Homo sapiens: one gene and its partner. The protein of the gene in region 1 interacts with the protein of each later gene in a biochemical or structural test. Each region holds a gene or a part of one and is shown on either strand. Other genes may lie near its edges.

What was found.
Region 2: the proteins of TESC (region 1) and SLC9A1 form a complex in vitro, tested with the Homo sapiens proteins (4 studies listed by BioGRID and IntAct, with this or other methods).

Annotation. Positions count from the first base shown.
Region 1 is NC_000012.12:117,093,523-117,110,038, reverse strand, and holds the start of TESC (calcineurin B homologous protein 3), read left to right. Parts: upstream 1-10,622; 5' UTR 10,623-10,756; coding exon 10,757-10,814; intron 10,815-16,350; exon of another isoform or gene 16,351-16,365; coding exon of another isoform or gene 16,366-16,387; intron 16,388-16,516. UniProt on the Homo sapiens protein: Functions as an integral cofactor in cell pH regulation by controlling plasma membrane-type Na(+)/H(+) exchange activity. Promotes the maturation, transport, cell surface stability and exchange activity of SLC9A1/NHE1 at the plasma membrane.
Region 2 is NC_000001.11:27,102,939-27,118,463, forward strand, and holds part of SLC9A1 (sodium/hydrogen exchanger 1), read right to left. Parts: intron 11,349-15,525; coding exon 10,888-11,348; intron 6,840-10,887; coding exon 6,589-6,839; intron 4,928-6,588; coding exon 4,710-4,927; intron 3,150-4,709; coding exon 2,947-3,149; intron 375-2,946; coding exon 285-374; intron 1-284. UniProt on the Homo sapiens protein: Electroneutral Na(+) /H(+) antiporter that extrudes Na(+) in exchange for external protons driven by the inward sodium ion chemical gradient, protecting cells from acidification that occurs from metabolism.

The DNA of each region.
Region 1 (16,516 bases):
TTTATATGTGATGTCCAGAATAGGCAAATCCACAGAGACAGAAGAGATTAGTGGTTGCCAGAACCCGGAGAGGATGGGGGAATTGAGGGGTGACAGGGAGTATGGGGTTTCTTTTGGGGCTGACAAAAATGTTCTAAAATTGATTGTAGTGATGGCTGCACAACTCTGAAGATATGAAAAATCATTGAATTGTGCACTTTAAATGGAGGCGTCGTATGTGGATGATATCTCAAAGCCATTACAAAACACACAAGACCATCTCCATCAAAATCACCTGGAGTTCTCATTTAAAATGCACTCCTGGCTGGGCACAGTGACTCACGCCTGTAATCCTAACATTTTGGGAGGCCAAAGCAGGAGGATTGCTTGAGCCCAGGAGTTTAAGCAGCCTGGGCAGCATAGTGAGCTTTCGTCTCTACACATAATTAAAAAACTAGCCAGACGTGGTGGTGCGCTTCTAGTCCTAGTTGTTCAGGAGGTTGGGGATGCAGTGAGCCATGTTTGTACCACCGCACTCCAGCCTGGGCAACAGAGTGAGATCTCATCTTAAAAAAGCCGGGCTCGGTGGCTCACACCTGTAATACTAGCACTTTGAGATGAGAGGCCACGGCAGGCGGATCACCTGAGGTCAGGGGTTTGAATCCAGCCTGGAAAACATGGAGAAACCCTGTCTCTACTAAAAATACAGGCACATGGTGGCGCGCGCCTGTAATCTCAGCTACTCAGGAGGCTGAGGCAGGAGAATCGTTTGAACCTGGGAGGTGGAGGTTGCAGTGAGCTGAGATCACACCATCCTGGGCAACAGAGTGAGACTCCGTCTCAAAAAAAATAAAAGCATTCCTGTAATGGGTCCAGAATTACAGTTTGATAGAAGCAATAAGTTCTAGTATTTGATAGTAGGGAATCTGATAGTAAGTAGGGAATTATAGTTAACAGTAATTTATATTTCAAAATAGCTAGAAGAGAAAAATTGTTCCCAGTACAAAGAAAAAATGAGGTGACGCACATCCCAATTAACTTGATTGATCATGACACATTGTATACATATATCAAAATATCACAAGCCCCCAAAATATTTGCTACTATGATATATCAATAAAAATACAAGAAGTAAAAAATGCATTCCTGGGCCTCCTGAGATAGAACACCTGGACCTGAGAATCTGAATTTAAATAAGAACCAAGGTGATTGTATGCACACAGAACTTAAATCATCCTTTTAGGGTTGGGCCAATGGCTCATGCCTGTAATCCCAGTACTTTGGGAGGCTGAGGCAGACTGCTTGAGACCAGGAGTTCAAAACCAGCCTGGGTAACATAGCGAGGCCCTGTCTCTACAAAATATTTAAAACTTAGCCAGGCTTGGTGGTGTGTGCCTGTAATCCCAGCTACTCAGGAGGCTGGGGCAGGAGGATCGCTTGAGCCCAGGAGTTTGAGGCTGCAGAGAGCTGTGATCATGCCACTGCACTCCAGCCAGGGCAACAGAGCGAGACCCTGCCTCAAGAAAAAAGAAAAATCATCCCTGTAGGAAGACAGTCTGGTCAACGCTGTCTCCTTGGCACTGTATTTTTCCAAGTGCAAACCCAGCGTGTGTATTTATTTCCTGTTGCTGCTGCAACAAATTATTATACCAACTCAGTGGCTTATATAAACAAAAGCTCACGCCTGTAATCTCAGCACTTTGGGAGGCTGAGGCAGGTGGATCACCTGAGGTCAGGAGTTCAAGACCAGCCTGGGCAACATGGTGAAACCCTGCCTCTACTAAAAATACAAAAATAAGCTGGGCACGGTGCCACCTGCCTGTAATCCCAGCTACTTGGGAGGCTGAGGCAGGAGAATCGCTTGAGCCTGGGAGGCAGAGGTTGCAGTAAGCCAAGATTGCACCATTGCACTCCAGCCTGGGGAACAGCGAGATTCTGTCTCAAAAAAAAAAATGATGATCTTATGGTTCTGGAGGTCAGAAGTCCAAAATGGGTCTTGCTGGGTTAAGATCAAGGTGTCAGTGGGGCTGTGTTCCTTCCAGAGGCTCCAGAGGAGAATGTGTTTTCTTGTATTTTCCAGTTTAGAGCCCGCCTAGCTTCCTTGGTGCCCTTCCTTCATCTTCAAACAGCAATGGCCGATTGAGTCTTTCTCATATCATGTCACTCTTGGCTCTGACCCTCCTGCCTTCCTCTTTGATTTGGTTTGGTTTGGTTTTGGTTTGAGCCAGGATCTCACTCTGTCACCCAGGCTGGAGTGCAGTGGCATGATTATGGCTTACTGCAGCCTCCGCCTCCCAGACTTAGGTGATCCTCCCACCTCAGGCTCCTGAGTAGCTGGGACGACAGGCATGCAATACCAATACCCGGCTAATTGTTTTGAATTTTTTGTACGTATGGGGTTTCACCATGTTGCCCAGGTTGGTCTCGAACTTCTGGACTCAAGCCATCTGCCCTCCTCAGCCCCGCAAAGTGTTGGGATTACAGGCACGAGTCACCGAGCCCAGCCTGCCTTCCTCTTTCACATATAAAGACTCTTGTGATTATATTGGGCCCACCCAGATAATCCAGGGTAATCTCCCCCATCTCAGGGTCAGCTGATTAGCAACCTTCATTCCATCTGCTCCTTTAATTCCCTCTTGCCATGTAACCTAACATATTCACCCATTCCAGGGATTAGGACGTGGGCGTCTTTGGGGGCCACATTCTGCCTACCACACAGTCCTCTCTAATGGTGTAGGATGCCTCTCTCCAAATCACAAATGATGAATAAATAAAAGCATCTCTACCCAGGGCTGTTGCATTTCTACCTGAGAAGAGGTCCTAGCAGAGTCTTCCAAATGCTGATTATTCCTGTCTTCTTCAACAGCTCCCACCCCCCGGCCCCTGCCCAGCCTCCCCTACCAGGCTCGATGTAAAGTGATGGTGAAGTGAAAACAGATTTGGGGCCCTTGCCACCTCTTTCTGGTTGGTAACTTTGTTTCTTGGACAACAATGCAGAGTTTGAAGCCCATCCAGGGACAACATTCCATCTGCCCCCTGCAAGTTCCGGTAATTGGTCACTATTTATAATTATATAAATAATAGAAAAACAAGCTTAAGCTGCCCTCCCCAAAAACCCAGTCTCCTCCTATTTTTAGGCAGCCAGCCTGCCCTCCTGTAGGGCAGCGTCCCTCTGAGGTCTGGGCCACTCAGCTCCAGCCATGGGCTGAAGCAATGATGCTGGTGACAGCAGTGATTCTGCCACCCAGGAAGGGGCCAGGGGTGATTTTCTAACTCAAGGTTGAGTTTAAAGCTCTCAGAGAATGAAGAGAAGGAACTATTCTAAAGCCCCCTTGCTGCGATCATTCTCCCAAGACCAAATCTGATTCTGTAAGAACTGGGAGCTGGACAGAGATTCGAGTCTGAGTTTCATTGATGTGTCTCACTGGGAGTCACGGGACCGGGAGAGACGGGAGGCTAGAAGAGACAGGAGAGTCAGGCTGGCTATAAAGTCCTTGATGTCCAACTACCACCCCCCTGCCAAAAAAAAAGGAACAGACAGTTGGGAAGGGTGTGCTCTATGCCAGCCATTTCACCCTTGTTCCGACTCTTCAAAGATGGGATTGTGGGGCCTATTATACCGATGAAGACATTGAGGTTTGGAGTTGCAATATAACCAACCCAATGGTACACAGCCAGGGAGTGGGCAGAGCCAGGATTCAACTCAGATCTGAATCGATCTCCTATAGCATGCCCACGGCTATGGGGGAAGATCAGGGTGCCTCGGGAAAAAAGATTGTTCAAAAGAAAATCAAAACGATAACTTTAATTTCAAAATGCAAATTGCGGGTGAATCTCTGATCCCATTGACACGAAAACCAAGAGACCACGACATATGAAACCAGCCTAAGGAGCCTGAATGATCTTATGAGAAAAAGCGTCTGTGTCAGAGCCAAATCACTGACGCAGGCCACCTGTGCGGTCTCCCTCTCCCTGGACCTACTTTATGAGAGCTTCACCACACATTGCTTGTTTGATGTGGTTTAGGTGCGGTCTTCGCTAAGAGGCCAAGCAAGATGATGTAATCACCTGATGAGTTCCTCCTGCCCACTGCACAGACAAAACCAATTCACTGAGACGACGGCATTGCAATAAAGAAAGAGCTTAATTGACACAAGGTTGGCCACTCCTGTCTCAAATCAAATCAATCTGAAAATTTGGAGGCTAGGGTTTTTAAAGGATACTTTGGTGGGCAGGGGGCTGGGGAATGGGGGCTGCTGATTGGTTGGGGATGCAATCACAGGGTTGTGGAAATTGGTCCTTGTGCACCAAGTCCACTTCTGGGCGGGCTCCCCAGGACCGGCTGAGCCAAGAGTTGAAGGTCTGGGTGGGGCCATCCGGTCATCAGAAATGCAGGTAAAGACATCTCAAAAGGCCAATCTTAGGTTCCACAATAGTGAATTGGGACAGTTGCAAATCTTGTATCCTCTGGAATAATGGCTGGTTGTCATTTAACTATGCCTGCGTCTTAGCGAAATTTAGGCCCCTCTCATCCTCCTAACCTGGTGGCCTTTCTTTTCTTTTCATTTTTTTTTAAGAAACAGGTTCTTACTCTGTCCCCCAGGCAGGAATGCAGTGGTGTGATCGTGGCTCACTGCAGCTTAAAACTCCTGGGCTCAAGTGATCCTCCCACTTCAGCCTCCTGAGTAGCTGGGACCAAAGGCAAATGACATCATGCACTGCTAATTTTTTTTTTTTTTTTTTTTTGTAGAGGCAGGGTCTCACTAAGTTGCCCAGGCTAGTCTTGAACTCCTGGCTCAAACGATCCTCCCACCCCAGCCTCTCAAAGTGCTGGGATTACAAGCTTAAGCCACTGTGGCCGGCCACCTGGTAGCCTTTCATTAGTTTTATGAAGGCGGCTTAGTTTTGGGGAAGGGCTATTCTCATTTAAACTATAAATTAAATTTCTCCCAAAGTTAGCTCGGCTCAAGTCCAGGAATGACCAAGGGCATTTTGAAAGTTAGAGGCAAGATGAGGGTTGGTGAGATCAGATCACTCTCGGTGTCATAACTTTCTGTTATAATTTTTGCAAAGGCGGGCTCAATGGTACTTGGAGTCCCCATAAATCTCTTGGTCAGTGGCCCAAATGCTAAGACAAATGTCGTGTTACTCCTAGAACATTACCATGCCTTGGGAGTTACCCCAAGCTAAACCATTAGAAGGGGCAGGTGAATTACAGAAACTGCTATTCAGACACCTTCGAGTCTATGCTCTGATTCTGGTTTACAATCCTTTGGGAACATCTTGGTTTTTCTATCAATAAAATGCGGATGTGCTGGGTGCCTCTCCTCCGGGCCCCTGCAGTGACTGGTACCGGCTAGCATACCATGATGTTCTGTTCACATCTCTTTCCTTGCAGACTTTGGGATCCCTGAGGTCAGGGACTGTCTCCTTCACTGTAGTGTCCAAACTCCTGGCACTCAATAGTGAATGCATGAACAAATAAACGAACATATGACAGTCAACTGGGTAGTAGTTTCCTGGTCTTGACTGGCTTGCAAGAGCAAATGGTTAAATATTCAGGGATTTTAAGCTGGGCATGGTGGCGCATGCCTGTATTTGCAGCTACCTGGAAAGCTGAGGCAGGAGGATCCTCTGAGCCCAGGAGTTCGACGCTAGCCTGAGCAACATAGTGAGACCCCATATCTAAAAAAACAAAATTCAGGGATTTTGCAAGCCTATTGTTAAATTATCAGTAACTTGAAATTGACTATGGCACGAGTATTTACACACAGAAATTGGCAACTGCTACAGATTAGGACTTCTGCCCCTCCTGCCCTTTTCAGAGAACTTGTTTACCAGCTCACCACTGGCTAGCACTTACGGTGTCAGGCAGTTTTAAGCACCTTCTCTATATGAATCTGCATTTAACCCTTACAATGTTACATATATGAATCTGCATTTAACCCTCACAATCACCTTACATGTATGAATCACCTTACATATATGAATCTGCATTTAACCCTCACAATGTTACATATATGAATCTGCATTTAACCTTCACAGTCACCTTACATGTATGATCACCTTACATATATGAATCTGCATTTAACCTTCACAATCACCTTACATGTATGAATCACCTTACATATATGAATCTGCATTTAACCCTCACAATCACCTTACATGTATGAATCACCTGACATATATGAATCTGCATTTAACCTTCACAATCACCTTACATGTATGAATCACCTTACATATATGAATCTGCATTTAACCCTCACAATCACCTTACATGTATGAATCACCTTACATATATGAATCTGCATTTAACCCTCACAATCACCTTACATGTATGAATCACCTTACATATATGAATCTGTATTTAACCGTCACAATCACCTTACATGTATGAATCACCTTACATATATGAATCTGCATTTAACCCTCACAATCACCTTACATGTATGAATCACCTGACATATATGAATCTGCATTTAACCCTCACAATGTTACATATATGAATCTGCATTTAACCTTCACAGTCACCTTACATGTATGATCACCTTACATATATGAATCTGCATTTAACCTTCACAATCACCTTACATGTGTGAATCACCTTACATATATGAATCTGCATTTAACCCTCACAATCACCTTACATGTATGAATCACCTGACATATATGAATCTGCATTTAACCTTCACAATCACCTTACATGTATGAATCACCTTACATATATGAATCTGCATTTAACCCTCACAATCACCTTACATGTATGAATCACCTTACATATATGAATCTGCATTTAACCCTCACAATCACCTTACATGTATGAATCACCTTACATATATGAATCTGTATTTAACCTTCACAATCACCTTACATGTATGAATCACCTTACATATATGAATCTGCATTTAACCCTCACAATCACCTTACATGTATGAATCACCTTACATATATGAATCTGCATTTAACCTTCACAATCACCTCACATGTATGAATCACCTTACATATATGAATCTGCATTTAACCCTCACAATGTAATTGCCACTTTGCAGATGGGGAAACTGAGGATGAGAGAGGTTAACTTGCCCAAGTATGGTTTCATAGCCCTCCATGACAGGAAGGTGGGAGAGCCAAATGAAGACCATCCTGGCCATCTCTGGGCTCAGCTGCTCTTTGCGGCTTGACAGGGACCAGCTATATGAATTGCGGTCACCACTTTTAATCAGCTCCTCCAGGAGGAGGTCCTCTGGGAGAAAAGACGCAGTTGCCTGGTGACTAAAGTGTTTCCCAGTCCTCCAAAAGTCATGCTGTGTTATTGGGGGGGATAAAGCTTGCCCCCCAGCAGGGTGCCCCTCTTCCAGGGCTCTAGACAAAAAATCCAATGAGCCCTGGCCAGACCCCATGCAAAGCTGCAGACCTCATTCTTGCTTCTTGCTTTGTTGACGCCTGCAGAGCCATTGGTAGGTTTGAATGAAAGCCATGACGTCCCGGAACAGGCAGCAGCTGGCTTTGCGTGGAGGGCGCCTTGCGGTGTGCACATCATTGCCAGAGGAGGGCAGAGCCCGGGCAGATGGTGGGTGCCACTGCAGGGGCCCCCACAGAGACATCTGTCCACCAAGAATTTGGCTTTGCTGTATCCCTTCGGGACCACAGTTGGGGACAGTCCTGGACTTCCTGAAGCTCAGCTTTAGGGATGACAGAGTCTCTCCAGGGGCCCATTCTGGTTTGAACATTCCATCTCTCTGTGGGCTCCATCACGTCAGCCCTTGTTTACCCATCTGCTTTGTCACTGCCCGTGTGTCTGTCTCCTCACCCCACCAGGAGTTCTTCAGGAGCGAAGGTGGCATCTTATTCCTGGCTGTGGCTCCAGGACCTAGCAAGAGCCCTGAACATAGTAGGTGCTCAATAAATGTGCAATGAATAAATGATTGAACGAATGCATAAATTGTGCCTTGGTTTTTTCTGCCTTCGTGCTGCTCCAAGGATCTCCTGATTACTTCTCCAAGCCCTGCTATTAGGAATAAATCCTCCTCTGTCATCCTCAGCAAGACTTCCCGCCTCCCAGCTCCCTGCTGACTGGTGGTGGTGGCTTGTTTGGCTGTGGACCCAGGAGAGGGGATGAGGACTCTGAGAAGGCCTCCCTGAGGATGTGAGTTTCCACTGAGGTCTGAAGAGGAAGCGGGAGTGCAAGAGAGTTTCAGGCAAAAGGAACAAGTACAAGTGCTTGTCTAGTAGCTAACAGCGGTCAGTGGGTCAGGGTAGACAGGTGATCGGGTAGGACAGACTCCCTTCATACTAGATACCAGGGGCTTCCTTGAGATCACCAAGGGACAATGTGAAGCCATGTGCCCTTCTCCTTGTCCCAGGGCTTTTGTCCCCACCAGAGCAACTGTGCCAAGCAGGAGGGGCTGATGTCCAGAGAATGCCACTTCCTATCCCCCACATCAGACAGTTCCATCATTTAATCCTTGACTAGTTTAATATAATAAAATTCCAGGAACTGACATTTTAAGTTGGAATAAAATTGCTCCCAGCAGCTGTACGTAATGGGCTGGCTCAGCGGCTCAGAACTCCCAGGGGTATTGGGGATCCTTTCCTGATCCCAGAGGCCTGCCTGTTTCCAGAATCCTTTAAACCAAAATGCAGTCCCTAGGTCAGCTGTCCTGCCGGCTCAGATCAGCTGATGACCCACAGCCAACATCTTTCCACCTTGATCAGGTCTTGCACTGCCCTCTGGAGAGTGCTTTAAAATGCAGATTGCAGGTGCTGCCTTAGCTCTACGAGTGCAGACAGGCAGTGGAAGAGGAAGCTGGATTTTCCATTTTAGAGACAGGGTCTCGTTCTGTTGCCTGGGCTGGAGTGCAGTGGTGCAATCAGAGCTCACTGCAGCCTCTAACTCCTGAGCTCAAGCGATCCTTCTGCCTCATCCTCCCAAGTAGCTGGGACTTCAGACGCACACCATTGTGCCCAGCTCATTTTTAAAAAGTTTTAATTGCTGGTAGAGCTGGGGTCTTGCTATGTTGCCCAGGCTGGTCTCAAACTCCTGGGCTCAATCCTCCTGTCTCAGCCTCCCAAAGTGGTGAGATTACAGACATGAGCCACTGCACCTGGCCAAAAGCTGGATTTGCAACCAGGAAGGGGCTGATTCTGATGCTCTAGGAGGTTTTAGGACCAACTCCCACCCTCTACCTCGGGCTCTGAAAGTCACCTCCTGCCCCTGGAAAGGGCTGTGACCCTTGGCTTGAGCCTGTAGTCTGCAGGAATGAACAGCAGTTCTCAGCAGCCCCCTTCCCAGCAGCCTGTGAAACTGATGGAGGTAGGTCCACCCGAGTCCCCTCTGTGGGCACCGAAAAACTCCTGCCCCCTACCCTGTCCCCCTTCCTCCCCAACATTTATCATCGAGACTAACGTTCAGAACAGACCTGATACCTGACGGTCATTGATGGTGGTGTCACTAAGCACTGCAGAGCCTTCAGGAGAGCCTTGACCTTGATGTTCTGCCCTGGCTGTGTGCCTCTCCAGGGGACAAGATTCCATAGCGCCCACCAGCCTCTGTGGCCATGTGCTGTGTCCACGCCAGGCCCTCTGGTGGACATCTCATTAACTTATCCTTATTTTAAGGAGGAGGAATCACATTACACAGGCAACAGCATCGGCCCCAGTCACCCCAACTGGATGGAGAGCCAACCCCTCAAGCCATCTTAACCCAGAACTTCCCTAATGGGCATGGGGACCACCGGCATTGCCTTCTCTCCAGCAGTTTGTCCCAAATGCAGCCTCCTGGGCCCACTTCTGCAGTTGTTTTTTTGTTTGTTTGTTTTTTGAGACAGAGTCTTGCTCTGTCGCCCAGGCTGGAGTGCAGTGGCAAGATCTCAGCTCACTGCAACCTCTGCCTCCCAGGTGCAAGTGATTCTCCTGCCTCAGCCTCCGGAGTAGCTGGGATTACAGGCATGTGCCACCGCGCCTGGCTAATTTTTGTGTTTTTAGTAGAGACGGGGTTTCACCATGTTGGCCAGGCTGGTCTCGAACTCATGAGCTCAAGTGATCCGCCCGCCTTGGCCTCCCAAAGTGCTGGGATTACAGGCGTGAGCCATGCGCCCAGCCCGCTCCTGCAGTTTGAGGTGCCTCTCAGCCACCGGGCTGTGCAGGGCCCACACGGGCCGCCACGTGGGTGTGTTCACCTCAGAAGGTGCTGGGGCTTTCCTGGAAAAAACCAAAGCGCATGGTGCATTTTCAAATAGGATTATTATTACTGTTGTTCTCCATAGAGCTATTTCATGCTCGCTGACTTCCTTGACTATCTCAGTGGAGTTTCCCTCCTAAGATCTGGAGGATGTAAGGTGGGATGGGTTGGGAGTGGGCATAGCACCTCCCAGGGGTCCCACCCCTCCTACCCACGCCCCCAAATTTGCTCACACCTGCTTCCTTCCAGATCCAGCAGGTGTGCGGAAGGGACGAGGTACGTGAGCACTGCTGCACGAACGGGGACTCCAGAGCGGTGGGCTCCGGGGTCCCCTTCCCGGCGGTTTCCGGGCCGGGGCGGGGCGGGGCGCTCCCCTAGCCGCGCAGTGCGCGAAACCGGCGTGCGCTAGGACCGCGGCGCGCCGCCCTCCGCCGTTATATGAGGCCCCGCTCCGGCCCCACGCGGAACCCGCGGCTCCGAGCCTTCGCCGGCGTCCCGACCCGAGGCCGGACCCGAGGCCAGTCCCGCCGCTGCGCAGCCGAAGCCAGTGCGGGGCCTGAGAGGGACGCGCGCCCCGGGGCCCCCGCCGCGGGCACCATGGGCGCTGCCCACTCCGCGTCTGAGGAGGTGCGGGAGCTCGAGGGCAAGACCGGCTGTGAGTACCCGCGGGGGGCGGCGCGGGGACCGGGGCGGGACCTCCGAACGGCCACTGTTGGGGACCCCGGCCCGCCGCCGCGCTGTGTGACCTTGGGCCAGTGGCGGGCCCTCTCTGCGCCTCAGTCTCCTCCTCTTTCAAATGGGTCCCCGCTGGCCACCTCGCGGGCTGCGGCGAGGAGCTCCGCGGCGATGCTCAGTGCCGCAGCCGCTCAGCTTCGGACTGGCCCGGGAACTCCCTGGCCGGGGGACTGCGGACCGGGGAGGGAGCGGGGCCCAGGCTTCCCAAGCGCAGGGCAGGTGCCTCAGGCCGGGCGGGCAAGTCCCTCAGGCACCCCCGCTGGCGCGCGCGCCCCACACCTGAGAGTCGTTTGCATTCGTGAGCGCGAGAGCGGAAAGTTTTGAAGTCGGCGGACCTGGGTGGGAACAGGTCTCCGACGCTCCCCGGCCGGGTGACCTTAGTCGGGAGAGCCGGCGCCCGGCGCCTGCTTTCGTCCTCGCATCTGTAAAATGGGTTCAGGCAGCCTCATCCCCGCGGGTGGCTGGGAGACTTAGCGAGGCAGCGGCCGCAGAGCACTTTGCCCGGAGCCCAGCGTCCTCCCCTGAGTTCGCTGAGTCTCCCGGGACCAGCAAAGGCTGCGCGCCCCGCATCGGCCCGGAGGCGGGGAGCCCTGGGAGGCCTGGCCGAGCTGCCCGCAGGGAAATGGCGGAGAAAGCGCTTCTCTGCCCGAGTTCAGCCGGGCTGGGGACTTGGCCCTGGGTCCTGAACTCGGCATGGCCAGTTCTGCCTCTGGCTGTGGACCAGGGTGTGGACTGGAGACCGCGGGGGCCAGGTGTGTGGGCAAACCGGCTTTGGCGAGCGACAGACCGGCTGTGAACCCTGCCAGCTGCACTTCCTGGCTGTGTGACCTTGGGCTAGTCACTTTACCTCTCTGATTCTCAGCTTTCCTTCTCTGTTGTAAGAGTTCTCCTAGTACCTGGTAGACGCTCAGGAAATGGGAGCTGCAGATATTTTGGGAAAGAGCTAGCTCCTGGCACCTGCTTCAAGTGCAGAGAACCAGCGTCCAGTATTGATCACCAAGAGAGGGTGGCCCAGCTGTTTGTGTGTCAGCTGAAAAGCAACCCCTCTTGACCCCCAATCTAAATACCCCTTTCCAGGAGAACTGGATGAAAATTGCAGAAAACCATTAATAACTGGTGTGTGTATGCACGCACTTATACGTCTATATCTGTATCTCTGTGTGTGTAGAGATATAGAAATATCCAACTAAAGAAGTAAAAGGTGTGGCTCAGCATATATAATATGGTACCCTTTTTTCTGTTTTTTAAAAAAGGATCCTTTGAGCTGGAGCCGCAAAGTAAAAAGAAATAGAAAATGTAAAAAGAGGGGAAAATAAGAGTATACATTTGTAATTGCTATATTTGCAGACTGGAAGAATCCACCAGAAAGTACGAATGGATGCTTGGTGGGGGTTGCGGGGGGAGTGGAAGGGATGAAGGGAGAGTGAGCTTTTTCTCCGTAAACGTTTTTATATGTTCATTTTGAACTATGTTGGATATTTTACTTACTCAAAAAGTTTTATGCACTTCAATCCGAAGACTAATATGAGAGAGAAAGGAGGGATTCCTCTAGCTCTTACTTGCTTGGGTCTCCTCTGCTTTTATTATTTCTCATGTGCCCTCTCCTCGCCTCCCACTGCTTTGAATCTGGATGGGTGTCGATGGGCATTCTCTGTGGCTGGGATCCCCGTTGGAAGGGTGGGCTCTCCGGCAGCCCACGGGGCACTCGGGAATTCCACCTGGTTGTGGGTTTGACAGGGAGGAGGGGCTGCAGAGCATGCTGGGAGTCTTGTCAGTTTCCTGGGTCCAGCCTCCCACTGGGATGACAGATGCTGTGTTCCTGCTCTGTAACCTTCCTAGATGTAGCTGCAGCGGCTTCCCTTCTTGCTGCCCAGAGCTCAGACTTCATAACCCAAGGGAGATGGAGAGGGTCGGAGAGGAGGTTCTGAGGTTAGACTAGAGTAGGCAGGTGGAACTTTAGGTAGGTGGAAAGTTGCCCCCAGTCCTCCGAAAGGGACTGCGTAATTCGGTCACTTTTGCCCACTTAGCAAATATTTATAGACCAGGGGCTGGGGATTTAGAGATGACTCGGAGAGGCTGCTGTTCCTGGAGGGGGACACACAGTAAACAAAACGCCCGACAGGTGTTAAACTGTGAACGAGGCATAGCAGGGTGGCATGAGAATGGAGCTTTAGGGTGGATCCGGAGGTCCTCCCTGAGGAGGTGATAATGGAACAGAAATCCAAGTAAGAATGAGCCAGGGGTGTGCAAATCAGTGGAAAGGGCATCTCGGGCCGAGGGGACGTCGAATGCAGAGGCCCTGTGGCAGGGACAAGCCAGCAACAGTAAATAAGAATGCATGAGATGAGGACACAGCTGTCGTCAGGGCTCAGGCTGTGGCAGGAGCCTGGCTTCAGGGGCCTTGCCAGGTACCTTGGGCAAGTCACTTATGCTCTCTGAGCCTCAGTTTTATCTACTATAAAATGGGCATAGTCATAGTACCTCCCTTGAAGTTGTTGGGAAGGATTGAGTTAATATACATGAAGTAGTTAGACCAAACACATGTACATGGTTTGTTATTGACCATGCTTTAAACACTCTTGTATGTCCTGGTCGCTCCGAGCCATAGCTGAGAGTTGAGTCTTGGTCCCACCTCTCTGAGCTACATGACCTTGGGCAAGTCATCTTACTTCTCTGAGCCTCAGTACCCCCACCTGGATCCTGAAGTCATTGTGTGGATTTGATAAGGTTACGTGCGAGACGATCGGCTTGGCATGGGAACGTCAGCTCCCAGAGACCCAGTGGGTCAGGCAGGGCCCTTCCTCCAAGGCCATTCCCTTGGGAATCTTCCCTGAGAAAAAGGGAGAAAAGCCTCAGGGTAAGGTGGCCAGAGGACAGACTGAGCCCACAGGGCTGCTGACTCCCCCGCCTCCCTGAGGACCAAGATGACCCCTGACTTTCTGGGGAGGAATCAGCTTGGTCCCTTTCTGAGAACACCATCCAGAAAGGACCAGAAGGTCAGGCTGAGGCTGGTGATAATGAACATAATTCCCCAAGCACCTGCTGAGCATCAGGCTCCACGCTGGTGCTCTCTGCATAACACTCTTTATAGTAATGATCCCCCAGGAAGGCAGTGTTAGGGCCATTTTACAGGTGAGGAAACTGAGGCTTAGAGAGGTAAACCAGCTTGCCTGCAGTCCCACAGCTGCTAAGTGGAGGAGTTGGAGATCATGGGATCCCCAAGCCTACTTTCTTTTTTTACAGTTTTTTTTAATTTTTAGTTTTTGAGGCAGGGTCTTGCTCTCTCACCCAGGCTGGAGTGCAAGGGGCATGATCAAGCTCACTGCAACCTCGAACTCCTGGGCTCCAGCGATCCTCCCACCTCAGCCTTCCCAGTAGCTATGACTGCAGGTGTGCGCCACCACACCAGCTAATTTTAAATTTTTCTGTAGAGACAGGGGTCTTGCCATGTTGATCAGACTAGTCTCAAATTCCTGGCCTCAAAGTGATCCTCCCACTTCAGCCTCTTGAAAGCGCTGGAGTTACAGGCATGAGCCACCATGCCTGGCCCCAAGACTGCTTTCTTACTGCCAGCATGCTTTCACTGTGTGTAGCTGCCACTTGAATTTCTAGGAACCAAGAAGGGATAGGAAAAGACTCCCGTATTTTTTCTCACCTTCAGGCCTTTGCACAAAAGCTGTTCCTCTGCCTGGAGCACTGTTTTCATTTGATGTGTACAATCAGGTGTTTACGTACGGGAGCCTTTCTCTGTCTCCACCCAGGGTAAGGTCTAGGCCGGGCGTGGTGGCTCACGCCTATAATCCCAGCACTTTGGGAGGCCAAGGCAGGTAGATCATGAGGTCAGGAGTTCAAGACCAGCCTGGCCAAGATAGTGAAACCCTGTCTCTACTAAAACTACAAAAATTAGCTGTGCGCGGTGGCAGACGCCTGTAATCCCAGCTACTCGGGAGGCTGAGGTCGGAGAATCGCTTGAACCTGGGTGGCGGAGGTTGCGGTGAGCTGAGAGCATGCCACTGTACTCCAGCCTGGGCGACAGAGTGAACTCCATCTCACAAAAAACAAAAACAAGAAAAAACAAACTCAAACCTTTCCTCTTAACCTTGTCTCTCTCTCTTTTTTTTTTTTTTTGAGATGAATTTTCACTCTTGTTGCCCAAGCTGGAGTGCAGTGGCGCGATCTCAGCTCACTGAAACCTCTGCCTCCTGGGTTCAAGCAATTCTCCTGCCTCAGCCTCGTGAGTAGCTGGGATTACAGGTGCCCGCCACCATGCTCGGCTAATTTTTGTATTTTTAGTAGAGACAGGGTTTCACCATGTCGGCCAGGCTGGTCTGAAACTCCTGACCTTAAGTGATCCGCCTGCCTCTGCCTCCCAAAGTGCTGGGATTACAGGTGTGAGCCACCGCGCACAGCGTTAACCCTGTCTCTTTATGAAACGAATGCTCATTATTGTTCAGGGGTTGGCTTACCTGCTGCTCCCATCCAGAAAGCCATCTCTCCATCCGACCTTTAAGGGTTAAACACCCATCCTCAGCGCTCCTGGAGCCCGCAATAGCAGGCATCACACCATGTTATACTTGTCAACTCTGTCACCTGCCACCCCTTCGAAACTTGGAGCTCCCTAGAGCAGAAAGAACGTGTCTTGTTCACCTTTGTATGCACTTGGTGGTTCAGTGAGAGCATAAGAGGCTCACGTTAAAGGGGCACAGTCCCTGGGGACTTTAAAACTCAAGGTGTATTGTTCAGGAACAGGCAGCCACTGGAAAACCCAGTGCCACCCTCACCAGCTGTCCTCGGCTGCCAACCCTCCCAGCATCTCCCCAGCCCCACCAAAAATATGCCTGAGCAGCAGCTTGCCACACAGGGCATCATCAGGTCTGCGTGCCCACCTTCCTTCTCCCTGCCTGTTAGAGTCTCATTGATTGATTTAAACCGGAAACGAGTATTCCCAGGAATCTTTTCTGAGCCAAGAAGGCTCACATCTAGATTGTTAAGATTCATATGAAAAGCCCGAGCGAAGGCGTCCCGGGGGTGTGATTGAGCTCACCTTCCCCACGCACCCGTGGTGACAGCAGCCAAGTGGTGTCTGGTGTGTGGACCGAGGTACAAAGTGGGACCTGACGGAGAGAAGGGCTTCTTGGGAATTATTCACCTGAGTCAGTTGTCCTTCACCACCTTGAGCTGGCCCCACTTCCTGTCCCCCCCATCCGTGTCTGCTCCTGGAGTTGGAAAGGAAATAATAAGACAGAGGATTCTGGGAAAGGTGGAGGGTCTGTTTTTTCCTTCAGGCTCCAAAACAGCTCTTCAGGCATGTCTATGTTGATGCCAAGAAGCTGCCAGAAGGAAAAGGAAAAAAAAAAAAAAAATCTCCAGACCTAGAGTTCAGACCTCATGATGGTAAGAGCTAATGTTTCTCGGGCGCGTGGCATCTGCCACACGTTCAGCTGAGCCAGGCAGCGTATCCGCAGTAGCTGATGGAATCCTCCCAGGAACACGGTTGGTTTCCCATTTTACAGATGCAGACATTGAGGCTCAAGAGAGGAGGTGCCTGCCCAAGGCCACAGGCATCATAATGAGAAGTAGAGTCGCAGGCTGGTGCGGTGGCTCATGCTTGTAATCCCAGCA
Region 2 (15,525 bases), on another chromosome or scaffold:
GCCTGTGTCCGGCTGAGCCCCCTTCTCTAATCCCACCTGGGACCTATGCCTGGGATAGGTTTCAAATGGAGGCAGAGATGGCATGATGCCCCCTCCTCAGGCTCCCAGCTGCTCACACCACACCTTCCTATGGCTAGACCCTGGCGGCCTCCTGGGGCAGAGGGAGCCCCTGGGCACTGGCACAGGGAGAAGGGGCTGATGGGGGGCAGAGACTTGAGGCCCAGCTGCTCCCTATCTCCCTGTTCCTCCTTCTGCAACCAAGGGCCCAGCCCGCACTCCAGTACCTGTGTGTGGATCTCTTCGTTGATGGAGCGCTTCGTCTCTTGCTTTTTCTTCACAGCCAACAGGTCTACCAGGGGCCGAATGGTCATGCCCTGGGGGGCAGGCAGGTGTCAGGCACTCCAGTTCTGCTACCCAGGCAGGGAGGCCACAGAGCCTCCCTCCCTCACCCCAGGCCCCCAAGGCTAGGATGCCCTCTCTGCTCTGCTCTCTCCCAGGACCCAAGGGTGTGAGAACTCTCCCACCTCCCAGCACTTATCTAAAGACAGGTCCTTAAGGCCTGCTTCTTCCTGGAGACACGGTCAGAGGTTTCACTGCCAAATGACCCCCACACTGGTCATCTGGCCTGGGCCAGGCAGCAGACAGCCTGGGTTCAGATGTGGACTGCACCACAGACTTGCTCTGCAACCCCATGGAAGTCAGGCCCCACACACAGGGAAAACTACCTCTGCACTGCCTCCCCACCAGGACTGTGAGGAGGACCGAGTAATAACAGCAGCAGCAGATGGAACTGCACACCTGCCATGTGACCAACACACGTGCTTGGAAGTGTTCTAGCATCAATCAGCTCTCCAATATCCGCAACACTAAGAGGGAGGTCCTTCCATTGTCTCTATTTAACAGATGCAGAAACTGAGGCTCAGAGAGGATAAGCAGCTTTCTAAGATCCCAGAGAAGCAGTAAAGCCATGATTTAAACCCAGGCAGGCTGGCTCTGGAGGGAGGCCCCCTCCCCAATGTTGCCTTCAATGAAAATGGGCTTGGAAAATCATTAGCACATACAACTGCAAAATCAAGGTAAAAAAAATTTTTTGAAGATGGAAGCAGGGCAAGAGGACAAAAGTGGCAGCCTCCTCCTCTTTTTTTTTTTTTTTTTTTTTTTGAGATGGAGTCTTGCTCTGTCACCCAGGCTGGAGTGCAGTGGTGCGATTTCAGCTCACTGCAACCTCCACCTCCCGGGTTCAAGTGATTCTCCTGCCTCAGCCTCCCAAGTAGCTGGGATTACAGGCGGCTGCCACCACGCCCAGCTAATTTTTGTATTTTTAGTAGAAACAGGGTTTCACCATGTTGGCCAGGCTGGTCTGGAACTCCTGACCTCAGGCGATCCGCCTGCCTCGGCCTCCCAAAGTGCTGGGATTACAGGCATGAGCCACCGCGCCCAGCCTCTCTCCTTTTTCTTAACTCGAGAGAGAGTCTCACTCTGTCACACAGGCTGGAGGAGTCACACAGGCTCAATCACAGCTCACAGCTGCCTCAATCTCCTGGGCTCAAGCTATCCTCCCACCTCAGCTTCTCAAGTACCTGGGACTTACAGGTGTGTACCACCATACCCACTAATTTTTTTTTTATTTTTTGTAGAGACAAGGTTGCCATGTTGCCTAGGCTGCTCTTGAACTACTGGGCTCAAGGGATCCTCCTGCCTCGGCCTCCCAAAGTCCTGGGATCATAGGCGTGAGCCACTGCACCAGGGTCCCCTCTCCCTTTAAAGGACAGAAAATAAGCCCAGCCCCAGGTTTCCCCTATTTTTTTTTCTCAAGAGAATGCAAAGATGTATCCCATCTAGGGCTTTTTGAGTATCAGTGCCCAGAAAAGACAGAAAGGATGGTAAAGAAATGGAGGCTCAGACAGAGTGTTTCTTATTTGCCCAAGGTCAGGCAAAGTCAGGTAAGGCAGAGCAATTTGCACCATCACAGGCTGGGCTTCCTTGGGGACCTTAGGCAGGAGAGTGGCTGTCAGCTAAGCCTGAGCCGTTTAAATGTACAGAAATCACTGAGCAGCAGGCTGGAAGGATTCTTGGGAATCATCTCGCCTGGTTCCCTCACTTTACAGATGGGAACTGAGACCCAGAGAAGAGTGGGGGTCTTTCTTAGGGTCAGAGGGACACCAACACAGAGCTAGGGCTGACTCCAGGCCTCCTGCTGCCTGGCTCATAGCCCTTTCCAGTTCCCCATGCTGTGATATTATTCCCATTTTACAGATGCAGAAACTGAGACCCTAAGATATGAAATCTCTTGCCTAAAGCCCTACAATGAGTTAGTAGCAAAGAGAGATCTTGGGCCTGTTGACTGTACCCACTTCTCTCTCTTTTTCTTTTTTTTTGAGATGGAATTTCACTCTTGTTACCCAGGCTGGAGTGCAATGGCGCAATCTCAGCTCACTGCAACCTCCACCTCCTGGGTTCAAGTGATTCTCCTGCCTCAGCCTCCCAAGTAGCTGGAATTACAGGTATGCATCACCATGCCCACTAATTTTGTATTTTTAGTAGAGACGGGGTTTCACCATGTTAGTCAGGCTGGTCTCAAACTCCTGACCTCAGGTGATCCACCCCCTCAGCCTCCCAAAGTGCTGGGATTACAGGCGTTGAGTCACCGTGCCCGGCCAGTACCCACTTCTCTTAATGCTCTATGAGTTCCAAATTAAGTTGGGCAGCATTCTGGTTCCTTTACATTCTGATCAGTCACTCTGCAATGACTCATCACAATTCTCACTTTACGATTGAAGAAACTGAGGCCCAGAAAGGGGGAGTGGCTCGCCCAAGGTCACACAGCAAGTTAGTGGTGGAGCTGGGACTAGAATCGCATTTCAAATCACACGCTTTCCTCTCTTTCCACGGGAACAGCCTGTGAGGGTCCCCAAGGCAAGGGCCTGCCCTGCCCTGGCCCAGCACCTGCACAAAGACGGTGAAGAAGATGACAGTGATGATGGCAGTGAGGAACAGGTCACACATGGGGAAGTGCTTCTTGTCCAGGAGGTAGCCCAGAGAGAAGGCGATGGCCCCTCGCAGGCCCCCATAGGCGATGATGAACTGGTCCTTGGGGGTCAGCTTCACGATACGGAACTTGTTGATGAACCAGGTCAGGCCCAGCACCCCTGCAGGGGAAGGCAGGGGGTGATGAGGGTCAGGTCGGGCTGTCCCCAGTCCCTCCTGGATTCTGCATCAGTGATTTCTCTGTGCATCCAGGAAGTCTCCATTACGAAGCCCACCCCGCTCACTCAATTCCTGGGTCCCTCAGCCCAGAGTGCTCTGAACTCCTCAATCCAAGAGCTGGGTGGATCCTTAAAGGACTTCCCCAACCTGGATGTGCTTTAGAGACATCATGGAGGCCTCCAGTGGCTGGAGGGCTGGGGGCAGGAAGAGGGAGAAAAGATCAAACAAGATGGGTCACAGGTCAATACTTGTTAAATGTGATGGGTGTGTGGGGGGTCATGATCCTATTCTCTCTACTTTTCTAAGTACTTGAAATTTTCCATAATAAAGCATAAAAAATGCAGAGGGCTGGGCCCAACCTCCACCCACAGAACCAGAATCCCTGGAGGATGAGGCTCAGGAATAAAGGGGATTTCAAAAGTGCACCAAATAAATGTGAGGTCCTGCCAGGCTTGGGGACATGGACCTAACCCTCAGAGAGGAAGTGAGAGATCCAGGGAGGAGGCGACTGAGGCACTGGGGTGAGGCATGTGGGGCACATGTGAGTGGAACCCATGCACCTGGGGCCTGGTCCCCACGTGTGCCCCGGCCTGCTGCATAGGTTTGGAGGACTGCACGTGGCTCTGCATGCGATTCGGCACATGCTCACGTCACCTGTCTTGAGACAGTGCAGAGAGCACTCAGCTCAGAGTCACAGACCTGGGTTCTGTGGGCCTCAGGCCCCTCATCAGGACAGCCACAGCCACAGGCTCAGAGTCTCAGGGCCCCCTCACTTTGACACAGCCTGACTCTGTCCCCAGAGACCACAGCCTTGCTGTGACACAGGCTTCTCCCTGCTGAAGGGCCCATCATGGAAATGGGAAGTCCCTCCTGTCTAGCTGTGCTGGGAGCAGGCAGGAGCCAACCAGGAAACCTCCACCACAAACTGCATCACACATATACCCCCAGCCCCTCCACACACACACACACACACCCAGGCCCTCTACACACACACACCCACACCCTCACAGCCCCTCCACACACACCCACACCCTCACAGCCCCTCCACACACACACACACACACCCAGCCCCTCTACACACACCCAACCCCTACACACACACCCAGCCCTTCCACATATACACCCAGCCCCTCCACACAACTATACACACACTGCACCACAGCCCAATCCCTCCACACAACACACACATATATACAAAGCCCTCCACACAACATACTACACACACACACCCCCAACCCCTCCACACACTACACACACACCATACACACATCCAGCCCCCCTACAATGCACTACACACACCACACACGCAATACGCATACACACACACACCACAGCCCAGCCCCTCCACACAATACTTATACACTGCACCACATGCACACACCACATAGCCTGGCCCTTCCACATAGTGCACTGCACACACCACACACACAGCACCACAGCCCACCACCCCCCACACACACCCCACACCACAACCCCCACCCCGCCCCAGCCCTGGCCCTCACCCAGCACGCGGGCGATGAGGCAGAAGAGCAGGGTGCTGATGACGAAGGTCCAGTTCCAGTGGTGGGAGCCGGCCACCGTGGAGACGCCGAGGAAGATGAAGATGAGGGTCTCGCTGACGCTGCTCCACATCTTCAGGAAGTATTTGATGGTGGTGTGGGACTTGTGGGAGATGTTGGCCTCCACATAGGGGCGCATCACCACTCCTGAGGCTATGAGCCTGGAGCAGGAAAGAGCGGGGTCAGGGCTCCGTGTCGAGCTGCACCTGCTCGAGCCCCTCCACTGCCAGGGGCAATGGGGCCACGACCAAGGTGCCCATGTCCCAAGCTCCTCTATGGGCCAGGGGCCCGCTGTGTGCTTTACACCCTCTTGCCACTCATCCTCACATCAACCCTATAGACACGGTGTATTCCTCCATTTTTTTTTTTTTTTTTTTTTTTGAGACGAGTCTCACTCTGTCACCCAGGCTGGAGAGCAGTGGCGCGATCTTGGCTCACTGCAACCTCCGCCTCCCGGGTTCAAGCAATTCTCTGCCTCAGCCTCCCGAGTGGCTGGGAATACAGGTGCCCGCCACCACGCCTGGCTAATTTTTTTGTATTTTTAGTAGAGACGGGGTTTCACCATCTTGGCCAGGCTGGTCTTGAACTCCTGACCTTGTAATCCACCCGCCTTGGCCTCCCAAAGTGCTGGGATTACAGGCGACGAGCGCATGCCCGGCCCTATTCCTCCATTTTTAAAATGAGTGATCTTGGCTGGGCACGGTGGCTCACGCCTGTAATCCCAGCACTTTGGGAGGCCGACAAAGGCGGATCACTTGAGGCCAGGTATTCGAGACCAGCTTGGCCAATGTAGTGAAATGCAGTCTCTTCTAAAAATACAAAAATTAGCCAGGTGTGGTGGTGGGCACCTGTAATCCCACCTAATTGAGAGGTTGAAGTGGGAGAATCTCGAACTCAGAGGCTGCAATGAGCTGAGATCGTGCCACTGCATTCCAGCCTGGGTGACAAGAGTGGGACCCCGTCTCAAATAAAAAAATGAGAGATCTGACTCTAAGAGAAATAGTCACCTCTCCCCTGTCACGCTGCCTGCAGGCAGCAAAGCCAAGACACACAAACCACAGTGTCCAACTCCAAAGCCTGCACCTTTGCCCCAAGGCCACACTGCCTCTTGACCCAATAGGAGTCAATGACACAGACCCATGGTCTCCTGGGTTCATTCCCCTCAAGCGTGGCATCTGCCATTACACAGGGGTCTCCACAGGGAGCTTTGTTCCAAGCAGCTGCTTGGAGCTCGGAGTCCTCCCAGCCCAGTGCTCACACCCGGGCTCTGCTCCTGGGAGCCAGGGGCTCTGAACCCCAGTTCTGCCTTGCTCGGCACTGGAACACCTTCACCCCTCACTGCCTCCCCACATCCCATTCTCCCCATTTCCAGACCCGGTGGAGACCTCAGGACCGCCAGGACTCAGGCCTGGTGAGCCTCCTACTGGGGCTGCTGAGGGGACTCCCTTTGAGACAATGAAGTAGCAGGGCTGTGGCTTTCCTCAACCTGAAGCTTAGTGGCTTCCAAGGCTCTGCTCTCCTATACCCTGGGCTTGCCTTCATGCAGGTCATTCTTGCTTCATCTGCTCATAGCCTGAAATGCCCTCTCCCGATTCCTGGACCCCAGGGGGCGCTGCAGAAGTGCTCCTCTTCTAGGAAGCCACTGATGCCCTTGGCCATTTAAATGGCTACCAAGCAGGTCTGGAGCCTGGAGTTCATGTCTCATCCCTGGAGCTCAAGGCTGGGCCCTGGGAGCTCCGTGAACCTACGAGCCTGGGGAATCCAAGCTGGCAGCCCCCGCCCCCACCCCGCCAAGCCCACTGCCTGCTGCACGCAGACTCACGCCATGATGCCTGACAGGTGGAAGAGCTCGGCTGACAAGTAGGCCATGTAGCTGTAGAGGAAGACGAAGAGCGGCTCGATGACCCGGATGTGGGAGGTAAATCGGGAGGTGAAGGCTGCGATGACCCCGTAGACCACGCCCACAAGCACCCCGCCCAGGGCCACCACGAAGAAGCTCAGGAAGCCGAGGAAGATGTCCACGATGCCCACGTGTTCGTAGTTGGCAAACTCCTCAAAGAGGTGATACAGGACCTGGGGAGGGTGTGCAGGCTGGTGGGTGGGAGGAGAGGGCCCTGGCCCCACGGTTCCCTGGGGTCCACCCAGGGCAATCCTGTCCCCTCCGTTAACCATGGCCACAAGAAGAGGCCACACGGTAGCAGAGAAACCCTAGTGCCAAGCAGGTGCTCAAAACCTCAGCCTGGGGCTGAGGGGCTTGCTCTGGGCCAGCCACGTGCCCCACTGGTGAAGGGTGGGCCCTGGGAAGCTCTGTGAAGACCCTGAAGCCAAACTGCCTGGACTGGAATCCTGGCTCTGCCACTCCTGAGTTGTGTACAGGAAGCAAATTCATCTCCCTGTGTTTCAGTTTTCCTGTCTATAAAATGAGGATAATAATACCAAATCTTAGGACTGCTGTGAGGACTAAATCAGCGAATCAAGTGCTCGGAGCCTTACCTGATGCAGTGTTAGCCACATCTGGTGCTATCAAGTCTGCCTCTCACTGCCTGACCTTGGGCACGTCATGCCCATCACTGGGTTTCAGTCCCTCCTTCAGCACAAAAAAGGGACGTTCACACAATGAACTAGAATGTCATTTCTTAACCTCTGGAGCTTTCTGAAAATACACATGTTCAGGCCATACTGGACTTGGACTCTCTGGGATAGGGCCAAGAAATCTCTATGTAACAAGCACCCCAGGGGTTGCAATGAACAGCCAAGTTCAGATGCTATGGAATTAGAGGCTAAGGCATCCCTGTCTCCTGGACTGGGAAATAGATGGTCATTGCAACACTACCATCAGATGTTTAAGTGGCACTTCATACACTGTAAAGCCCTTTGATAGTCTTTATCTGAGTCGACACTCAACAACCATGCGAGGCAGGTGGGTCAAGGATGCTCCTTTGCTAAACCGAGGCTCACAGTGGTAAAACAACACGCCAGGGGGCCCCCAGCCCAGGAGCAGAAGAACTGGGCCCAGAACTTATTCCCTGACAGCCATGGCTGAGGCCTCCCCAGCAGGCTCAGCTTTGAGGATCTGCCCCTCCTATTGCTAGGTCCCTGAGCTGCCTGGCCTACTCAAGTCTGTCCTAGACAGCTCTGCCAGGAAGGAGCAGGGAGTTTCCAGGCCTGGGGGAAGGGAGGGAAGGACGTGAGGATCCATGACAGGGAACCCTCCAAAGCCCCCAGGACCTGGAGCAGGAGGAATGGACCGTGAGGAGTGACCTGTCTAGGGCACAGACCTGAGACCAGGCAGCTCAGGGTCAGCCTCTGGCTTTACTCTCTGGGAAATGGGGCACTCACACCTATGCCAAGAGCTCCAGAAAGACCTGACTTGGGCCAGGCAGCAAGGGGAGATGCAGAGCACTGGCCAGGCCTGGTGCGGCCTGGCCCCAGCTGTCTGGGGGATAGGACAGGGCTCCAGCGGCAGACAGCCTCTTAGCAGGTGCGTACTCAGCCGTGGGCTAAACTCATTCCTGGCCTGAGGGGATTCATGGGTCCTCATGGTCTACCACATGGGCCCATGGAGTCGGCACAGAGGGGAAAGTCCTCCTTTCTGGCCTGGTGCTATTACCCCTGGAACTATAGAGAAACAGAGTAACACAGTGGTAAGCACTTGGGCTTTGGACTCAGACTACGGATTTGAACCTCAGCTATATCATATATCAGGCTTATGTAACCTCTCCGTTCCTCAGTTTCCTCATCGCAAAAAAACTGGAATATAACTGTGTCAACCTCATGGAGTTACTGTATAGATTAAATGAGGCAACATAGGCCAGACACAGTGGCTCACGCCTGTAATCTCAGCACTTTGGGAGGCCAAAGAGGGAGCATCGCTTGTGCCCGGGAGCTTGAGACCAGCCCAGGCAACATAATGAGACCCCATATCTACAAAATAAATAAATAAATAAATAAATAAATTAGCTGGGTGTGATGGCCAGCACCTGCAGTCCCAGCTACTTGGGAGGCTAAGAGGGGATGATCATTTGAGGAGTTTGAGGGTGCAGTGAGCTATGATTGTGCTACTGCACTCCTGAGTGACACTGTCTGTGTGACAGGAGACTCTGTCTCTAAATAAATAAATAAAAATGAGGCAATACACATTCAGACAGGAAGCACCCAATGAACACCAGCAATCACTACCACCGCTGCCACTGCCTTTGGGAGACATGACCATGGGTCCACAAATGGCTGGGTCTGTTACCTGCTTGATGCAACCATGCCCCAAGCTCCACAGCAGTGCTCACCTGAACCCCAACACCCAGATCCCACTGGAGAGGGCTTTATCTTTGGCACTCACTGGCTTCACAGACATTAGTGAGTATGACTCACTAATGTAAGTAATCCTGTAAGAAGCCTGGGAGGATGACAGGCTGAGTACTGCAATCCCTGTGTCACAGATGGGGAAACTCAGGCTCATGTGGTAACCCTGGGCAAGAGCTAGTGCTAGAGGAAGCCAGGATGGAGGCCTGCCTGCTCAGGTCAGGCTATTCTACCCAGCCCCATGAGGAGGCGTGGGAGGAACAGGAAGCTGAGGCTGCCAGCAGCTGAACACCACAGTCTGTCTCTACTCTGAGGTGCTGCTTCCTGAAGGCTGGGGCTGCAGAGGAGGGAGTCATGGCCTGGGAATGCACATGTGCCCTTGAGCTTTCCTGTGTGTGCAGCTGCTCTGAGCGGGACAGCTCAGGAGGGGGTGGGAGTGTTCTCACAACACAACGTGAGCATGCACATGCACACATCTGTTTCCCAAGGAAACCAGCTGGGAGGAAGGGCATGTGCAGGTGTATATGGTGCTACCACGTGCAGACCCTGGAGGAAAGCACTAATCCTCTGCCACTTTGCAGCTATCAAAGGTGAGGCTGGCTGGGCGCAGTGGCTCATGCCTGTAATCCCAGCACTTTGGGAGGCTGAGGTGGGCGGATCACCTGAGGTCAGGAGTTCGAGATTAGCCTGGCCAACATGGCGAAACCCAGTCTCTACTAAAAACACAAAAATTAGCTGGGCATGGTGACACACGCCTGTAATCCCAGCTACTTGGGAGGCTGAGGCAGGAGAATTGCTTGAACCTGGGAGGCGGAGGTTGCAGTGAGCTGAGCTTGCGTCACTGCACTCCTGTCTGGGAGACAGAGCAAGACTCCATCTCAAAAAAAAAAAAAAAAAAAAAAGGTGAGGGCCACAGAGGTATAGCATTTGCTTAAGGTCACACAGCAAGCAAGTGGCCAACTTCTTTTACTTATCACCTTCTAGATGTTTTGGAGACAAGGCCCCTTTCCATAATCTCCGCCCAAAAACTGTGCACAAACCGAATTCTAACTTAAGATATAGCCAACATGAGAGCTGAAAGGCCCCTCACAGATGATATGGTCTGTGAAGAGGGAACTGAGGCACAGAGAGTGTAAGTAATTTGCCCAAGCTCACATCAAAATGCAAGAGAAGGGCCAGGCTTGTTGGCTTAGGTCTGTAATCTCAGCACTTTGGGAGGCCGAGGCAGGAGGATGGTTTGAGGCCAAGAGTTCAAGACCAGCCTGGGCAACATGGTCAAACCCCATCTCCACAAAAAATTTAAAAAATTAGCCGGGTGTGGTGGTGCATGCCTGTAGTCCTAGCCACTCGGAAGGCTGAGGCAGGAGGATCTCAGGCCCAGGTATTTGAGGCTGCAGTGAGTTATGACCGTACCAGTTCACCAGCCTAGAAGACAGGGCAAGACCCTGTCTCTTAAAAAACAAAAAGCAAGTCAAGTCAAGGAGGGAGCATATAACCTAGCAAAACCAAGAGCTTAGGCCCTGGAGTCAGTCAGACCTGGTTCAATCACAAACTGGTTCATACTCCAACAGGTTATTTAACTTCTTTGGGCCTGTGTCTCCCCTGGAAAATGAGAATAATAAGCACCTCTTAAGGCAGCCATGAGGACTTAAATGAGATAATCCATGCCGAAGGGCTCAGCATGGTGCCTGGCATACGGGAAGCGGGAATGTGCCTCAGCTGTTTTTATTACTGTTATTAGCGGGTGGATGAGGGATTCACTGGTGGGCCTGGATTTGGGTTTGTACCGTTTGGACATGGGCATGGCCCCTGGCCTCCTCACCACAGTGACGGCGTCATTGAGCAAGGACTCCCCAAAAACAAGGATGTGCAGCAGCTCATTGATGTGAATTTCCTCAAAGACAGCCAGAACCGCCACGGGGTCCACGGCCGAGATGATGCTGCCGAAGAGCAGGTTGTCCAGGAGGCCGATGTTGTTGATCTGCTCACCGCCCACCAGGCACACGGCGTACATGAGGCCGCCCAGGAAGAAGGCGTTCCACAGCGTGCCCACCACGGCAAAGATCAGGATGGTGCCCAGGTTTTCTGTGAACTGCCGCAGTGGCAGGAAGTAGCCCGCATCCAGGATGATGGGCGGCAGCAGGAAGAGGAAGAAGACGTCGGACTGCAGGAAGGGGGGTGTCTCGCCTACACCCTTGATCAGGCCCCCCACCAGCAGCCCCACCACGATCAGCAGGCAGCTCTCCGGGACGATGCTTGAGATAGTGGGGATCACATGGAAACCTGCGGAGGGCGAGAGAACGGGAGGCCATGGGCTTTCGGAGGAGCCAGGAGAATAGAAGGTTGGGGATGGGCCGGGGATGAGGAGCGCAGTTGGTGAGAGGTGCACAGGCTGGGTCTCAGAGGGCTGCTCTGTTAACTCTCTGAGCCTCCGCTTCCTCGCCTGTAAAATGGAAGGGACAATGCTAGCTTCACAGGTTTGCCATCATAAACCAAGTGACAGTGTTTTTAAAGCACTTTTTTCAAAGGATATATACATGCTATCTCTGTCACTGTCATAAAATGTTAGAAAGCAGCAGTTCTATATGCTTCCAGAAGGCAGAAATTATAAATTGATTACTGACGTGCCAAGTACCTACGGGCATCACCTACGCCTGAACCCAAGGCATTATTCCAGGCACAAGTTCAGGGAGGCAGATCTGAGCTCAACCTGAGGAATAACAATCTAACAATTCTGTCTGAGGGAAGATGGTAGTTCCCTATCACGGAGCTGTTTAAGCAGAAGGCAGACAACCAGCTGGTGGGGAGTGGCATAGGAGACAGAAGAAAGCACAGAAGAATCTAAGAATACCAGCGTGGGAAGGAACTTGGGGATAATAAGGCCTGGGGTCTGCAAACCTGCAAAACAGTAGGCTTTCCTACTGAGTCCAGGCAGCTGCTCAAGACACGGCTCAAGGATGTCAGTGGCAACCAGCTTTGGCAGGTGAGATAAAATCTATTTGCTATCCCGCTTCTAGCTCAATGCCACCCACTTTAAAGATGGGGCAACTAAGGCTCAGAAAAGGGAAGGGACTTGCCCAAAGTCACACAGCAAGTGGGGAGCAGAACTAGAATAGAACACAGGTCTGATGCCCCAGTTCCCATCAAACTGCACAGTTCTGTAATTCAAGCTCTCCTATCCTTCCCTCCCATCAAGGCCTCCTCACACACCCCTCTGCCTGGGACCCACCAGCCATCTCCCCAGGCCGTGTCCTGGCCAGCAACAGGCCGCTCTGCTGTAGTCCACCTTAAGGCTTCAAACCCAGAGCTGAGGAGTAGCAAAAATCCCCGTTGAGAGGGCCTCTCTCAATATCAGGTATGGCCAGAGAACCCTGAGCTCCTGTGAGTGGTTTACTTGTTTGTTTTGTTTTGGGGTGGGAAAGTAGGTGGAAAAAAATCTGAGCATCTAGTTGTATGTTGGGTACTATGCTCCCAGGGTTGGCATAGCCAAGAGGGTTTGTCCCTTTGCTCAAGAGGAAAGCTCTCTCTGGCCTGGCATGGTGGCTCATGCCTGTATCCCAGCATTTTAGGAGGCTGAGGTGGGAGGAACACTTGAGGCCAATAATTTGACACCAGCTTGTACAACATAGGAGACCTCATCTCCACTTAAAAAAAATAGCTGGGCATGGTATGCACCTGTAGTCTCAGCTAGTTAGGAGGGCCGAGGCAGGAAGATCACTTGAGCCCAGCCTCAAAAAAAAAAAAGAAAGAAGAAAGCAAAGCTCTCTCTCCTCCCCTTCCCTATCTTGCAAGCTCTGTGCAGGCAGATCCCATAACTGCTTATCATTATACACCCAGGGCTAGGACACAAGAAGTGCTCAACAAATATCAGCTGACTTGAAAATACACAGGGCTGGGACATCACCCAAGATTTCCGATAACCTGCATGCCTGGCCAGGCCTCTGCTCTCATTACTTACTCTTGAGATCCTTGGGACAGAGGAGGAACTTCCCTCTCCATGCCCAAAGCCCTTCCTACTCTCAGGTAGGAATCTGGGCAGTGCTAGTACGGTGACAAGTCAAAGTTCACACTGCTGGCTGGGCACGGTAGCTCACGCCTGTAATCCCAGCACTTTGGGAGGCCGAGGTGGGTGGATCACCTGAGGTCAGGAATTCAAGACCAGCCTGACCAATATGGTGAAACCCTGTCTCTACTAAAAATATAAAAATTGGCCAGGCGTGGTGGTGGGTGCTTGTATTCCCAGCTACTTGGGAGGCTGAGACAGGAGAATTGCTTGAACACAGGAGGTAGAAGTTGCAGTGAGCCGAGATCACGCCACTGAGCTCCAGCCAAGATCACTCCACTGCACTCCAGCCTGGGCAACAGAGCAAGACTCCATCTTGAAAAAAAAAAGTTCACACACTGAACACTATCCAGGCCCAGAATCCTGGCACAGTGCCAAGCACCCTGAAGACACTCAAAACACATTGGGAAAAAAAGATGTCTCCATCCTAGGCCAAGAGGACCTCGAAGGCACCATGTGCATTCTCCTGATTTCAAAATAGACATGACCAAAAGTCACTTTTTGTTCATCTACTTCCCACATCAATAAAAGGGAAAATAATTCCAAAATCACCCCTTTTGCTGAAAAGTCCCCCAGTCTTTGTACTGTCCACCAGTCAACATCCAGTGTGTAGCTGGCTGGTCCACTGGGAAGGGCTAGTCATGTTGGACCCAAGTCTCTCTTGCTGTAGAGGATAAAGCCCACATTTTCAGCACTGCCTCTGTCATCTGCTCTTGCCTCATGTCCCATTCTCCCCACTGTCAACTCTTAGGTTTCAGCCTTGCCAAATTCCTTGCAATTGCCCCATATGAGCCACATCCTCTTTTGCCTGCCAATCTTCACCTAGTCTAGTTCCTCTCTCTAGAAATCATTCCTCTACCTCTACCCCCACCATATGTGGCTGACACCATATCCTCTGCCTGCCTCCTCCTTCAGGAAGCATTCCCTGACCACCACCTGTCTGCTCAGGTTAGGGCAGGAATCTTCTGGTGCTTCCCTCTCTCATAACCTTCAATCCACAGTCATCTCCCAGGTTCCTCTCTCTCTTCCTGGCACCCACCGAGATCAGTCAGACAACCCAGGCAGAAGCAGCTGAGACAAGACAATGGCATCAGACCCCAAAGACCTGCAGTGTGCTGGAGGGGAGACAGGCACAGCGCAGCGGAGATAAGCAGGATGAAGATTTAGGGGAGCAGAGCTCCTACAGGCAGGGGCCAGAAAGCACCTTCCCAAGGCCGGAAGTCCAGCTCCAGCCAGCTGCATGCTGACCCCCCTCCACAGCCTCCCTGCCCCTGTCCTGGCGTTAGCACCAAGAGCTGCCTTAAGAGAAGGCAGAGTCTAAAGAGATAGTCCAGGGTAGGCAGATGATGGCTTCCACCTCCACCTAAGGGGTCGGGCTCTAAAAATGCCTCCTACCCTCACTCTGTGCCATCAACCCAATCCACAGAGCTTTCCTGGCCCCATAAATCGCCAGACAGTGCCTGGGAGACCCAGAGAAGAGTTGGCCACAGCTCCTGCCTGGGGAGGGGGCAGGCATGTGAAACAAGCCAAGAACAGCAACATGAAGACGGCTCCTCAGGTCTGAGGGCGTCCCATGAGCCAGAACTGTGCTGGGAGCCTGGCACGCACCATCTCATTCAGTCCTCACCACAGCCCTTGGGATAGGTATTGCCTCCATTTTGCAGAAGACAAAGCTGAGGCTCAGCAAGGTTATGCCACTCCCCTAGTGTCTAAGGGAGGACCTCTATTCTAGCTTAGGTGTCTCAAACCGGTAGCAGAGAGCGCTAATTAATTCTTTAGTCAAAGCTCGGTATTTTCTCTGAGCCAGGCCATATGGGACACTGGGAACATTGAGGTGACTCAGACTCTGAACCTCCGTGAGCAGCTGATGGGGAGGGCCATGCTATTCCAGCCCTTGGAGCTTCTATGACCAGGTGAACAGAGAGCTGGCATTCCTATTGAACACAAGAAAAACGAGCTCTGAGAGGAGGCTGCATGCACTCAGCCAGGCCAACCAGGACTGGGTCCCGGGCCTCCTGACTACAGCACAGCGACCTCCTTCTCCTTCAGCCAGCTCCAGAGTACCTGGGGCTGGAGCCATGTTCCTGGAGCTGGTTTCCCTGGCTTTCCTGTTTTGTCTCTGGCGCTCAGTGAGCTGAAGGAGCTCTAGGCCCTGATGGGCTCTCTGGGCCTGAGGGGAGGGCCGGGCCGGGCCAGGCTGAGGAGAAAGGTCTGAGATCCACTTTTGGCTCCCTGCCTGTGGGTAGGTGGCACATTATTGGAAAGCACTTCTAGGGCTGGGGGAGGAAGGGATTCTGTCATCAAGAGGAGGCTCCTTCAGGAGCAACGGCTCAGGGAAGTGGGAAGCAGCCCCTGGACCTGCGCTGGCTTGTCCCTCTCCTAACGCCCTGACTCCAC